Linked DNA regions of Homo sapiens: region 1 is linked to region 2. The links come from fine-mapping of genetic effects on gene expression. A gene starts in region 2. The other region holds a variant in brackets. All regions are shown on one strand. Distances are between the middles of the regions.

Region 1 (4,248 bases), 170 kb after region 2:
GTACTGAGACTGGGTCCTGGAGACGAGCCCACAAGGGTGTGTGCTGGACGGGCACCATGGCATAAAGATGCGGGAGATAGCGCCTGTGATTGGCAAGCATCCCAAGTGGGTGAAGACAAAATATCCAAGGAGGGATCATGTTTGAAATTTTCCCAGCGTAGACGCCATGCAACTTCTGTCTCACTATTTTGGGAGTATAAGATTAATGGTAAGAAATTTTTGCCTCCTAGAAGGTTCTCTATTAAACTAGGAGAAACAGTGGCAGTGTAGCAGCAATGCGTAGCTGCACTGACTTCACTCGAGTGTGCAGACCAGCCACACACACAAGAACATGTCCCTATGCCCAGGGCCACCAGGGGAGACGGCATTAGGTAACACCAAGAATCATGTCGCCATCATGTTTCCTTGCTTTTCTTTTTCCCTACCTTCTTTCCTTCCACCTTTCTTTGTACCTCATCCCCTCATCCTTGAACTGTCTCACATGCTTTCCTTCCCTTCTTTCTTCATAAAATAATATTGCTTTGAAAGATATCTTCTAATTATGTCGTCTCTTTCAGATTTTTAAACAACGTCCTCTTGTGTTTAGACGTTTGTAAGTACTTATACATAAGGAGAAACTACATGTTCAAGCACAGCTATCAACTGTATTCTCCTTAACCATCAAATAAGACTGGGCAGGGTGTGATGGCTCACCCAGTAATCCCAACACTTTGGGAGGCTGAAGTGGGAGGACCCCCTGAACCCAGGAGTTTGAGACCAGTGGGCAACACAGCAAGACCCCATCTCTACAAAAGATTTTATTTTTAATTACCATAGTAGAGTGCGCCTGAGTCCTAGTTACTTGGGAGGCTGAGGAGGATCATTTGAGCCCAGGGGGTCAAGGCTGTGTTGAGCCATGATCATGCCACTGTACTCCTGAGTGACATAGACACTTGTCTCTTAAAAATTAAAAACTAATCATACGATTACAAATGGTCTTCATTAGTATGAATAGGGACCATTTAAATATTTGGCAATCTTATTGATTGAAAAAGTACTGGCCAGGCAGGGTGGCTCATGCCTGTAGTCCCAATGCTGAGAGGCTGAGGTGGGAGATCATTTGAGGCTAGGAGTTCAAGACCAGCCTGAGCAACATAGCAAGACCTCATCTCTAAAAAAAAAAAATTAAAAAATTAGCTGGGCATGGTGACACATGCCTATGGTCCCAGCTACACGGGAGCCTGAGGTAGGAGGTCACTTGAGCCCAGGAGGTCAAGGCTGCAGTGAGCCATGATCACACCACTGTACTCCAGCCTGGGCAACAGAGGAAGACCCTATCTCAAAAAAAAAAAAAAAAAGAAAAAAAAAGGAAAAAGTACCTAGAATTCTGGGATAGATAAGTTCAGTCGAGCATCCCTAATCTAAAAATCCAAAATCTGAAATGCTCTAAAATCTAAAACTTTTCAGCACCGACAGGATGCCACAAGTGGAAAATTCCACACCTGACCTTGTGTGACAGGTGGCAATCAAAATTCAAAATGCAGTCTAAACTGTTTCATGCACAAAATTATTTAAAAATTTCATAAAATTACCTTCAGGCTATGTGTGTAAGGTGCATATGAAATCAATGAATTTCGTGTTTAGACTTGGGTCCCATCCCCAAGATACCTCATTGTATATATGCAAATCTTCCAAAGTCTGAAATATTTCTGGTCCCAAGCATTTCAGAAAAGGTGTAGTCAACCTGCATTAGCTTTATGCAAAAGAAAAATAAAAAGTCGAAATGAAATAAAAATGACCAGACTGTAAGATGTAGAGGAGATCTGTATCCTGTACGTGTCCGATTCGTTGTATGGCTGAAGTGTAACAGTTTTTGTGGTTTCAGCTTTTCAGGGGCTAAAGACACATCATGGACAAAACAGAGTGCATCAACTTCTGGTGGCTATTCCTAACCTCAGGTCACAGGTCTGAATACAGCGCAGAGCAGCCCGCCTCCACCATAGGCGGCTCATGGCTTTATTTTCCTG[G/T]TTTTTTTTTGTTTGTTTTTTTTTTTTTTTGAGATGGAGTCTCGCCTTGTCACCCAGGCTGGAGTACAGTGGTGCGATCTCAGCTCATTGCAACCTCCGCCTCCCAGGTTCAAGTGATTCTCCTGCCTCAGCCTCTCAAGTAGCTGGGACTACAGGCATGCACCACCATGCCCAGCTGCTAATTTTTGTATTTTTAGTAAAAACGGGCTTTCACCATGTTGGCCAAGCTGGTCTCGAACTCCTGACCTCAAGTGATCCACCCACCTCGGCCTCCCAAAGTGCTGGGATTACAGGTCTGAGCCACCCCACCCAGCCTGTTCTCATTATTTCTCTTCGTAGTGAGGTAAGATTTGTTCCTAAATGAGGTAGGTCAGGAGAAATAAAAAGAAAAAACATTTTTGTTATTCTCTGAAATAATGTGCTGAATAAACCAAAGGTGACATTTTATGGGTAGGTCTGAAAACTAAAGGATTGTCTGTTGTCATAAAACCAACTTGTGGCATCTCATTGTTGAGAAGGCATAACCTGTGAGCTTCCAGTGGGTCCTGTGAAGTGGCGATCTGAGAGGGTGCCCATCCCCAGAGCATGCCCACTGGCAGGCCCTTTCTACCCAAACCCAAACCCAACTTCAAATGACAATTGTTCCAGACAGCCCACAGCCCAGGGCACACGCTTTCTTCTTGTAGACCAGCCTACCTCCCTCTACGGCTTAGCTCTCACAGTGGAGCTAGCAGGGGACAGACAATTTTCAGTCAAGTTTCATTTTCAATAGAGAAAATCCTATTTTCCCATTAAATGGAGTTGAAAACGTGGTGAGGAGGGGATTAAGGCAGTGGCCACCCCTGCGGTCTGCTGGCCTTGGGCCACATCTTTTAGGAGTGCCTGTGACATTAATTTATACATTGAAAATACTTGAGTCTGTGAAATGAATTAGTACACAAGTTGTTGTTTTCTAAAACTGGAAATTCATTGTTAGAAGTTAACTTAGAACAAAAGAAGCCTTTAAAAATGTACTGTGGTGTATCAGACCCACTGTCCGTGACATCTCTGATGATCTTGCTTAGAAAACAGAGGAAATAACCTTCACTTGGTCATTTAATTAGCTGAGGCCACCATGTTCAGAATCTCGTATCCTTGACCTCCTGAGCATTAATCTGGAAACTCCACACAGTGTACAATGTATCCATTTTAGGTTTGTTTACCTTCTCTTTAATGACTTAACAGAAAAAAACTGCATGATGAAATATATTTTCTCCAAATATATATATATTTATATAATATATAATCTTAGTTAACTCAAAGGTATATACATTGTATAATAAATAATATTTATAAAAAGAGACTTTTTGAATATAAAATCAAAAAGATCAACAACTTCTACAACTTTTTACAAAACTTTGGATACAGCAGGTTGGTAGGAAATTTCGGTTGGATACTATTACCTGACTACGGCGAGAATCATTACAATGCACTCATGTACTATTATTAAATAATTACTTGTCAGCTACTTGAATACGCCCCAGAAACATGACTTTATCACTTTTAATATAGAATACATAGATATGAAAAGATTGTTTTGAAAATTCGTATCCATTCTGCTGAAGTATTCTCACATAAAGCAAGTATTATCCAGTTGACATGATTTAAAACTTTTCAGTCTAAGGTGAGATGGGGAGGGGCATTTCAGACTTGGCGGAGGGGGTGAGATGTGTATCTTTAGCAGGGCTTGTGGCCAGCAGATTTAGAAGTGAAGGCGGGCTCCTGGACGACCATCTTGGCAAGCCCACCTGCACCAGCTGGGAGATCGCTGCCCTGGTATTTTAGGTCAGGGTTAGGTAGACCCCAGAGAGAAGGGGGAGAAAGAAAAATCTTTGTTCTGCTCATTCCCCTGCTGCATCTCTTCTTTCTGATTCTCCCTAAGACAGTTGTTGAACCAATTCATACTGTGAAATCCATGTGCCTCCCTTTTGCTAGCTTTCTCTAGGACGCTCAGCTGGACCAGTATGCCTCAGGGAGAACTCAGCCGTGAGATGCTTCACCTAAGGGAGTAGGTGACTGCTGGTTCCCCTTTGAACTTCTAATCCAGATCCTTGGGAACTGCATGGATGGAAGCTATCTCAGCATGCAGGTGAGGGAGGAAGAGCTGGGGGAAAGAACTCTGTGTCTGTGTTTACTCACATTGGCCCCAGAGAGGAAAGGACACAGTAAGATGGGTCCGTATTGGAGAGGAAGCAAAGGGATG
Region 2 (4,526 bases):
CAGAGACATGTGGAGTATCTGGAGCACTGTCTCAGGATCCTTCCTCTCCTGCTGGATGCTAAGGACCTTAAGGACAAGAGCTATCTTTGCTTGCAATTTATTTGGCAGGCCCTGCAGGGCTGTGCAAATGATTCTATTTAATTTTTACTACTTGTGAGAAGGCACAGAGGGCTTTGAGAGGGCACAGAGGGCCTCTTATAATGGGTAGATATGCACATTAGCTGATACACTGGAAACTTTCCAGCAGGCATATCCTTCCAAGATGATAAATATTCTTCCTTGTTGGAGAAATTGAAGACATTTGTACTTGCAATCTAGCTTATCTAGTAAAACAAGACAAACTAACCAGTGATAGGGAGAAACATGTTTGCATTATTTTCCAACCTTGAAAATAATGTCAGATTATTGGACTGAGAACCAATGTCATCTTCTGGATCTGGTAATTATTTGGACAAAATCTCTTTGATTCTAGGTTCAAAGTCAAGGTGTCAAAAAAAAAAAAAAGGATACAACTGTTAAGCTTATTTAATTATACCTCTCACTGTACAAATAAGGAAACTAGGCCAGGCGTGGTGGCTCACTTCTGTAATCCCAGCACTTTGGGAGGACAAGGCCAGTGGATCACCTGAGGTCAAGAGTTCGAGACCAGCCTGGACAACATGGCAAAACCCTGTCTCTACTAAAAATACAAAAATTAGCTGGGTGTGGTGGCAGGCGCCTGTAATACCAGCGACTTGGGAGGCTGAGACAGGAGAATAGCTAGAACCCGGGAGGCGGAGGTTGCAGTGAGCCGAGATCATGCCACTGTGCTCCAGCCTGGGTGACAGAGTAAGACTGCGTCTCAAAAACAAACAAACAAAAACAAATAAGGAAACTGGGCTCAGAGAGATGAAGGTACACAGGTGATGGGTAGATAGGGACAAAGAAAAGAACCTAACCCTTTGGACTCCCCAAGCCATTCTAATATTTGTTTTTGTAAGTTAGTAGCTTCTGCACGTTAGTATGTCAGAACTCAACTAGTTTCCTATCTTTCCTGATAACCTCTCCGACCCACCCATGATTTAGCTAACATCTGATTTGGTCAACCAAGCACCCTGGTCCTCAGGTTCAGTGTGAGACTTAATGAAATAGGCGTGAATTTTTTTTTTTTTTTTTTTTTTTTTAGACGGAGTCTCGCTCTGTTGCCCAGCCTCGCAATCTCAACTCACTTCAACCTCTGCCTCCGGGGTTCAAGCGATTCTCCCACCTCAGCCTCCTGAGTAGCTGAGATCACAGGCGCCCGCCACCACGCCCGGCTAATTTTTGTATTTTTAGTAGAGACGGGGTTTCACTATATTGGCCAGGCCGGTCTGGAACTCCTGACCTTAGGTGATCCACCCAAAGTGCTTGGATTACAGGCATGAGCCACCGCGCCTGGCTGGCATGAATTTTTTCTTCTGTCCCTAGTTCATCTTCAGGTCACTGTCTGATTTTATTAGTTCTCAAATTTAAATCACTATGCATGCTCAGCTCTTCTAGTTATTTCCCTTCTTTCCTCATGTTGGGAAAAAAACCCCGATTTATTCTAATTGTGAGAAATGAAAGCGAACAAATCCTATCATTCCCTATTGTCTTGTGCAAATATGAAGAGAGATATGATAGTGGGGTAAATAAAAGCATCAGGGAATCCATTCGGCAGAATCTTTCTCCTCTCAGCGTGCTTGCAGTTAGATATTCTGAGATTCCAGTGGAGAAATGGTATGGTGGAAACATTGAGGTTCAACAAGGCTCAATTTAGGGCATATTTTATTCAGATTCTACCATATATATTGTCTAAAATGAAACAACACTGGGGAATGAAAAGGTTGGTCGAAGATGCAAGTTGCCTTTATTAAATAAAGACAAATATTTAATAAAAATAATGTATAAAAATAATCACAATTCACTTTCAAATCTGAAAATACTGAGTTTTCCAGGCTACACATAAATAAAACTGCCAACGATGACAATTCCAGCAACTAGGAAAACAAGTACGCCTACAAAGAAAAGTGAGAAAATTCATGGAGAATTTGAACTCAGAACCAACTCCTCGGAGCTGATCTTTTTTGGGGGAAGCCAGGGAACGCGCCGGGCGCTCTCATCAGCAAGACCATGTTTAAAGAGAGTGTGGAAGCACAGACCAAAATGGACATTCGAGGGCGAACAGCAGCTGGCAAAGGGATAAGTGATCCGAAGCATTAAAGCCCTTGAGACAAATTCCGGCGCGAACCGCCAGTGGGGGATGAGACTCGCAGGCGCAGCCCTCCAGGCCCCGGCGGACTGACACGCACGTTGGAAACGGAGTCACCCACCACAGCCCCGCAGCTCCAGCCAAAATGGCGCCGCCGCTCTGCCCACCCCGCGCACCCCAGGCGGCCGCCGAGCCCGCGCGCGCGCCCTGTGGAGCGAGGACGCCGGGGACGCGGCCAGGGACGCGCGCGTCCTCACGGCGGTTGCACGCCTGCGCGAGGGCGGGCGGCGGGGGCGCGCGCGCGGCGGGGGCGGGCTTTGCCGAGCGCAGAGCTGCAGCCGCCGAGCCGGACGTGTCCGCGAAGATGGCGGGCCGGGTGAGTGCCGGTCTGGGAGCCCAGGCTTGAGGCAGGGGCGCCGGGCTCGCGGGCACTCTGGGGTCCAGGCGGCCCCAGAGGAGTGGGAGTGAATCCGAGCAATGGGGCGCGAGGCCAGAGCGGGACTTGAGGGTAGCAGGGGAGCGGTGGCAGGGGATTAGCCCTCCTCAACAACTCCACCCCCCTCGAGGGGAGATGACCCCTCGTTACACGCGTCTGCTGCGCCTCCCGTCATCCTCCCTTCCCATCCCTTGGGGCTTGTTCCCTCGTCCTCCACACAGCCGCAGGGTCGCGGTCGCCGAAGCCCCCTCTGACGGGCTCTGGGGGTCTTTCCGCACCCCCTTGCGAGGGCTTATTAGGGGGCGCCGGAGTAACTGCCGGGAGCACCTCTGCTGCATTCGGGGCAAGGGGTGTAGGAAGGATCTTCAGGAACCCATGTCTGGCTCTTCACAAATTAAAGGTCGTTGGGAAAGAGGAGGGGGTGCCAATGACTTTTAGTGTTAAAGCCCGGCCATCTGGGGGACCTGTCAACTGTCGGGTCAGGCAGGAATTGGCTTTAGCTTGGAGTGAGGATGGATTTGGGGTGTCACGTTTTGTTTTTATGGATGACACTCGCTTCGAATGCAGCAGGATATGCTGTAGTTTCAGGGTTTTAAATTTACTTCCTCCTTTAGCCTTTAGGATCGTTGGGTAGGATGGGTTTGGCGAGGAGAGAGAGCTGGTTGAGTGCTGTATTGCAGTCTGCCTTGAGCTAAAAGCTCTCAAGGGATGAGTCCTGCCCGGAGATTACACTGGTCATAAACCTGAGGACATTAACTGCGTCATTGGGGGTGAAAGATGTGATTGACTGATCTATTTATAACAGAATTTTTGAATAAGTTTGCATAGATTTATGCATATATGCAAATGCCCTATCTGAAGGGACTTGTAGGTCATGAGATTCTAGAGTAAGAAGGGATCTTAAAGGTCATTTAGTTTGGCTTCTTTCTCTTCCTTTTCCCCATGGCCTCTCCTTTTAAGGCTAGTCCTTCTGCCAGTACTTCAGACCCTATCTGTATATTCACCTGCTCCTTCTTAACATAATCAAGCTTCTCTATCTTAAACCCTTCCCCCACCCCCACAGCTGTCACCTTTTCCCGTCCCAGTTTACAGCAGGAAATTTGATAGAGTTGTCTATATTTATTGTCTTCCATTTGCTTACCACCTACTCACCCTTCAACCTACTGCAGTCTGATTTCTGCCCCATCATCCCACTGAAACCTGTCCCTCAACTTAATTGATACCTTTCAATCCTTATCTTATTTGATATCTCAGCAGCGTTTGACGTTGTTGACCATGGCTTCCTTGACGGAAAGCACTCTTCACATGTGTTCTGGAATGCCTCGCTCCTGGTTTGACTCAGACCTCTCTTTTGCGGCCTCACCCTCCTCTACTTTGTTATTCATTGCTGGTATTCCTCAAAGGCCGTCTTCTCACTCTCAATTTCCCGCTCAGGCAATTTCTTCTAAGCCCATAGCTACAACTGTCTATATGCCAGTGATTCTCAATATTTTACCCCCAGTCCAGACCTGCCCTTTAAGTTTCAGGTTAATATGTCCAACTGCTTATTTAAAATCAAGGTCCCGAAACGCAGCTTTTTCAACTCCGAACCCAGGATCTTAGCCCACCTAACTTGTGTAGATACTCCTCGACTTAACGATGGGGCTACCTTCCGATAAACCCATTGTAAGCTGAAAGTATCAGAAGTTGAAAATGCATTTAATACACCCGATCTACCGAATATCATAGCTTAGCCTAGCCTGCCTTCCTTACACATGCACAGAACACTTACATTAGCCTACAGTTGGGCAAAATCATCTAACATAAACCTATATTATAAAATGTTGAATACCTCATGTCATTTATTACTGTGCTGATAGTGAAAAACAGAATGGTTGTGTA

Which allele goes with the higher level. Alleles are on the strand shown, and positions count from the first base shown. SD is a standard deviation of normalised expression in the study named.
With allele G in place of T in region 1, the expression in monocytes after R848 of the gene that starts at base 2,467 in region 2 is lower (moderate effect, 0.66 SD a copy in Quach 2016).

The links. PIP is the estimated chance that this variant, and not a neighbour inherited with it, causes the effect.
Region 1: its variant is the best candidate, but not a certain one, in a credible set for the expression of NSF in monocytes after R848 (Quach 2016, PIP 0.83).

The regions. Positions count from the first base shown.
Region 1 is chr17:46,759,314-46,763,561 of GRCh38, forward strand. WNT3 (Wnt family member 3) reads right to left here. Exons shown (of 5, transcript NM_030753.5): 5 at 3,193-4,248. It also overlaps a transcript of LRRC37A2 not described here. Among named protein-coding and RNA genes, the nearest start is that of WNT3, 57 kb to the right of the region's middle. The variant G/T (reference allele first, on the strand shown) is at 2,007.
Region 2 is chr17:46,588,203-46,592,728 of GRCh38, forward strand. It overlaps NSF (N-ethylmaleimide sensitive factor, vesicle fusing ATPase), which reads left to right and starts at 2,467. Exons shown (of 21, transcript NM_006178.4): 1 at 2,467-2,585. The coding sequence starts at 2,574. It also overlaps a transcript of LRRC37A2 not described here.